2 separate regions of the Homo sapiens genome follow, and region 1 is linked to region 2. The links come from fine-mapping of genetic effects on plasma protein levels. A gene starts in region 2. The other region holds a variant in brackets. All regions are shown on one strand. Distances are between the middles of the regions.

The links. PIP is the posterior inclusion probability: the model's chance that the variant is causal. Protein levels are from antibody-based Olink assays in UK Biobank. Linkage for the fine-mapping came from a reference panel and not from the study's own genotypes, which makes the PIPs less certain.
Region 1: its variant is fine-mapped to the plasma level of the S100A13 protein (UK Biobank, PIP above 0.99).

Annotation. Positions count from the first base shown.
Region 1 is chr1:153,436,657-153,439,565 of GRCh38, reverse strand. It overlaps the pseudogene S100A7L2. Among named protein-coding and RNA genes, the nearest start is that of S100A7A, 22 kb to the right of the region's middle. The variant G/A (reference allele first, on the strand shown) is at 1,458.
Region 2 is chr1:153,625,249-153,628,099 of GRCh38, reverse strand. It overlaps S100A13 (S100 calcium binding protein A13), which reads left to right and starts at 595. Exons shown (of 3, transcript NM_001024211.2): 1 at 595-617; 2 at 1,567-1,780. The coding sequence starts at 1,628. RefSeq lists an enhancer at 348-1,173.

The DNA.
Region 1 (2,909 bases), 190 kb after region 2:
CCCTAAGAATACTTTGGAGGCTTGCTGAACCCCCAGGCCTGGGACCTCCACACAGCATAGCCCTGGTGAGATGATCTGCCCCTACCTGGGTAAGGTATTGAGCAACCAAAGCTCCCTCACTCCCTACTACAACCTGCAAACTCTCAGTCACCCTCTGGGCACAGGGCTCAGCCCCTGGCCTTGGCCTCAGACTCAAAAAGGCTTTAGATGGCTCCTTTTAGTGAGTTGCCAGCACAGAGCTTTCTCCTGCTTTGGGAGGTGATAGGGGTTTATTGTCAGATGCCCACAGGCATGAGCAAATGTCATTTTCTGGTTCTTTGGAAAGTGTGGGAAGTGGGAACTGCACTGTCCTATTTTTCAGGCTTGGGGTGCAGGCCAGCCCAGACTGAGTATTGGCTGGAGGATCTGCTTTGGGAAATCAGAACTTTTTATTTAAATAACATCCAGCCTTGGTGATTTAAAGGGTGCAGATAATTCCCAAGAGCAGACATGAAGGGACCCCCACCTCATTCCCACCCCATCCAGCAGCTTAAGAACCAGAGAGTTATTTCTGTTCTTTTTAACAGAGGCTAGCTATGGTCACCCGTGCCTCTTTCACATTCCTGTGAGGGTCTAGGAAGGGCCCCCTGTGTTCGGGACAGGGCTGTGTTTCCTGCTAACACTCATGTCCACGCTCATATGTGCACCTGGAGCCTGCATGCACCGTGTCATGCAGGGCTTGCACTTGAGTCAAGGTGGGGCCCACGGTGTCTGGTTCTTGAAGCAGCCCAGGAGGGTCAGACACCAGATCACCAAGGCCGTTGTCCTGCCCCTGTGACTCTCACCCTGGCTGTGAAGCTGGAGGAGATGGATTTGGTGCTGTTTGAGGAGTGGAGTCTGCCATGTGCTGACTGTGGCTGGGGGTCCCTGCTCAGGGTTTAGTTCTTCCACGTGTTGTTGGCCTCTATCTCTCCCTACTTCTCCCTCTCACAAGCACGGCCCATAGCTGGGCTTCTGCTTGTCTCCTCTTCTCCTGTTGCTCCCCGGCCTGTGTGAGCCCAGATCCCAGGTATGGCTCTACCCTCCTCTTTGGAAGCAATTTATCCCACCACACAGAGAAACACAGGTTTCTCTGGTCCACCTTAGCCTCGTCCTCATTTGCTCCTCAATCCCTTCTCATCTTCTTAATATCAGTCATTCACTAGAGAAGGAAAACAATCATTGTTTTTATTTCCTGAAGGCTTTTTGAAAGCAAAGATGAATATCCCTCTAGGTGAGAAAGTCATGTTGGACATAGTCGCGATGTTTCGCCAATACAGTGGAGATGATGGTAGGATGGACATGCCAGGTCTGGTGAACTTGATGAAGGAGAACTTCCCCAACTTCCTCAGTGGCTGTGTGAGTGGGGACTCTGCCCGCCCTTGGCTGGGAGAGCTTTTATATTTGTGCGGGGCAATGGAGTAGTGATTCTTGGACAG[G/A]TCCTGTGCATTGTGACATGTCTGAGGACTCATCTCTGGGAGCTGAATTCACTATTTTTATTGGGTAATTCTGAGCCTGGTATGCCTCACTGATCCATCTGTCCCAGCCTTAGGCAGGACCAGCCCCGTGGAGAGACTAACCATTCAAGAGATGGAGACTGGAACTGAGAATCAGACATGCTGGGCTCCTGTCCTGCCACTGGGCCCCCTGCCACGTTACCTGGAGAGGTTACACACACGCTCTGGCCATTTGTTTCTTCTGCCCAACGTAACCTTGTCCCTCTGTGAGAGTCACTCCTCTAGGTTCAAGTGGAGGCTTGTCAAGATGGAACTCAATGGAAATCAGAATATTGATAACATGAGCACCACCCTTTATATTTGGCAGAGCTTATTCATATACTGGGTTTTATTTCACTGTTAGAATGCATCACTCTTATTAGTAAAATATAACAAGAGAGAATAGAGCACTGGGTCCTAAAGAAAGGGAACCTGGCACTTAACAGTTTGAATGGGAAAGAAATGGAATGGGAGAAGAGTCAACATGTAAGAGAAGGAAGGCGGTCAGCCTGTGCTGGGCCCCTGGGGAGAAAGGAGACAGCGCCTGTACAGGTGGGTAGGTGGGTGGGTCTGTGGGTCTGTGGCCAATGAAGGCCCCTCACTCCTTACCAGTGTGGTTCCTGGCGGAGCCTGACACCAATCTCTGTGTTTTCCTCATGGAGTCACTCAATGGAGAACTCCTCAGGAACAACCCAGCAATGCTGCTCTCTCTCTTCCACCCACTCCTGTCCCACTTACCCACTTGTCATGTTCACACCACAGGATACCTCTTTCCTCTTTTTCCAATTCAAATATCATTTTTCTTTCTTGCGTGTTTCTCTCCATGCAGGAAAAAAGCGACATGGATTACTTGTCCAATGCCCTTGAGAAAAAAGATGATAATAAGGATAAGAAGGTTAATTATTCTGAGTTTCTTTCCTTGCTGGGGGATATAACCATAGACCACCACAAGATAATGCATGGAGTGGCACCCTGTTCCGGGGGAAGCCAGTGATCCCACCCTACCCAGGGGCCTCTGGAGACCCCCATGGACAATAAAGCATCTACTCCCACAAGATACTTCCTCCTTTTCCTTGGCCGTGTGTATCTTAGACAGAACAGGAAGTTGTTGGTTAACTGCTTTGTAGATGCTCCACTAGGTACAGAAATGCTCCCCAGCAAATGTCTGCTTCCAGAGTGCTCCCCACAGTGTCCTGAATCCTGATTTGGTCACTCTTCTTTTTTGGTTGTTGGGCTTTGAGATTCACCTGTGCTCACACACCTGGGAGGACGCATCCTACCTACCTAGCTTGGTGAGCCTAGATCAGGGTGTAAACTGGAACCCTTGCCTGGGGCCTTGCCAGAGGCCAGATAGGCACTTGCTCTCTGCACCACTCTCATGAGTAGAAAGGAGCA
Region 2 (2,851 bases):
GGGGGTCTTAGTCTGTGGCTCCTCCATGGGGCCTCACTGAGAGGACCCTCAGTGAGAAACTTAGTCTTGGGAGTCTGAGAACCCACAGAGGGATTTCAATCCAGGACTCTTCTCTGGGGGTCTCAACCTGGATCCCCCTCTGTGTGTGGGGCCTCAGCCTGGGGTTCTCTGAGGGATCTTGGTCTGTAGCATCCTTTGTGGGATCTCATTCCAAGGGGCCTCTGTGTGTGTCTCAGATTGGGCCTCTCAGTGTTGAGCTCCCTTGATTGGTTGCCTCCCTCTTCCCCCCTCAGCATACACACTCCTGATTAGACATGGGTATGGTGGCAGCAGCCCCCAGTATTGAGAGGACTAGGACCCTGGGACCCCTGCCGAACGAGATCTGTCCAGGCAGCTCCTCTCCCTGACCAAGTGGGGGCGCTCGTGTGGCTGGCAGGGAGCCCGGGTCCAGACCTGAGGGCTCAGGGCAAGCGGCCTGATTGGGCTGTCTCTGGTCTTCAGAATCGACCACGGAAATTTGACACCTCCGGGCTTGGAAGCAGCTCTCTCCTCCTTCCCCGCTGCTTATAAACCTCAGCCCTGAGGCTCCAGCTCACTCTACCCCATCTCCTTGCCGGGTGAGTCTCATGGCTGACCCTGGAGGGAGGCTGGAGATCATTTTTTCTTCCTGGGCTCCCAGGTCCCTCCCCCAGAGCCAGCTCAGACAGGAATTCAGGAAGGAGCTTTGGATGATCGAGCAACAGCGCGTGCAGGAGTGTGTGACGGGGTGGACAGAAAAGAGAATGCCTCTTCCAGCCCCACCCGCCGCACCCCAGGGGGTTGTGAGTGCCTGTACTAAACCCGTCCTGGAGCAGGGAGTCAGAGACGCCCCGTTCCAGGACCCTTGTCACCGGGAGACAGGAGCGGGGAGGATCTGTGGGGTCCTGGGTTCAGCACTCTGCCCTGCTGCCGCTGAGGAGAGGTAAGGGTGGAGCGGGGCAGAGAAAATGGGTCTGTTCAGACGGAGCCAGCTCTGACCACAGGGGACATTTGCCAGACCCTGTGCTTCTCTGCTGGGAGGAGCGGTTAGAGTGTGTGTGGGCGGATGCGAGTGGCCGGAGACCAGGGCCCAACATAAACAAGCTTTGGAGACAAACAACCTTATGACCTGTGAGTCTGGGTGAGACAAGAAGGGATTCTTGAGACAGACACGCCACAGAGGGGCCACCAGACTTGAAGGACTCCAAGAAGGACCTTCAACTGAAGACCTCCTCTCAAGTAGAGGGGTCTCCAGATCGAGGGATCACCACAGAGGGGTCCCTAAGCCACAGACATTTAAAAAGGATCCCGGATTGTGAGACCTACAGAAGAGGGGGTTTCTGGAGCTGAATCTCCTGCCCCCACCAAAACTGAGATGCCGTTGCCTGGTCTGCTGCCCCAAGCTCAACCCCTGTCCTCTCCCTCTTTCCCCATATGCCCCCTCCAGGCTGAGACTGATGTGATAACACCAAGGCAGGGACCTTCTGAACCATTCCTGCATCTTGGGGCTCCCTGACTCTCCCTCTCTGCTCCTTCTCTCTTCCACAGGTCAGCCCTGACAAAGGTCAGCTAGCCCCTTGAGGACATCAGCTTTGGCCTCAGGGTCCTAATGGCAGCAGAACCACTGACAGAGCTAGAGGAGTCCATTGAGACCGTGGTCACCACCTTCTTCACCTTTGCAAGGCAGGAGGGCCGGAAGGATAGCCTCAGCGTCAACGAGTTCAAAGAGCTGGTTACCCAGCAGTTGCCCCATCTGCTCAAGGTAGGCAGAAGTCTGGGACTGAGATTTTGTGAGATGATGATTATGGGACACTGTGTTTAGGACGTGATGGTGCCGAGTACGGTGAGGTGACCACAAGAAAGGGTGTGGGTGGCTGCATGTGTCAATGGTTGCAGGTTTTCTTTTGTTTTTTCGAGACAAAGTCTCACTCTGTTGCCCAGGCCGGAGTGCAGTGGTGTGATCTTGGCTCACTGCAACCTCCATCTCCGGGGTTCAAGTGATTCTCCTGCCTCAGCCTCCTGAGTAGCTGGGATTACAGGTGTGTGCCACCACGCCGAGCCTATTTCTGTATTTTTAGTAGAGACAGGGTTTCACCAGGTTGGCCAGGCTGGTCTCGAACTCCTGACCTCAGGTGATCCACCCGCCTCGGCCTCCCAAAGTGCTGTGGTTACAGGCGCAAGCCACTGCGCCTGACCCGGTTGTGAGTTTTCTTGCCTGGTGTGTACATGTGTGTGTTTGTGTGTCCATGCATATAATTAGGTAAGCAAAGATACTATGTGCCAGTGGGAGTATGGTCTTGTGTCAGAAGATGCTGTTGGGTTCTTGTGTATGCTCTGTGCCTTTCTGGTCTAATTTCCCCAAGACAGGACTGGACCCAGAGCTGGCTTCCAGGAGATTCACAGACTGTCAGAGCTGGAAGGAGGCCAAGAGAAAACACAGTCCGCATTCCTCACTTCACATATATGGAAACTGAGGCCTAGCAGTGGAAAGGGGCTTATCAAAAATGAAAACACAGCCAAATTCATGGAGTCATAGACCTCAGTGTAGGGGGTCTGTGGGTGCATCTGTGAAGACTCCCTACCCGCTATGGGCATCCCCTTACTAGGGTGTAAGAGTCATTCCTTCTCTCGCACTCACAGGCTGGAGTCAGGTCTTAAATTTCATCGACTCTGGCCTCGAAGAGGCCTGGTCATTCTGGCTGTTGACAGTTTGTTTTACATCCTTTCTGAAAATCCACAGGCACGTTGAAGTGTGTGAATATGGACTCCTTGAACACAGTGAGTCTCTGAAACTCATGGTCTTTCATCTGCAAAATCCCCTACAACTTCCAAC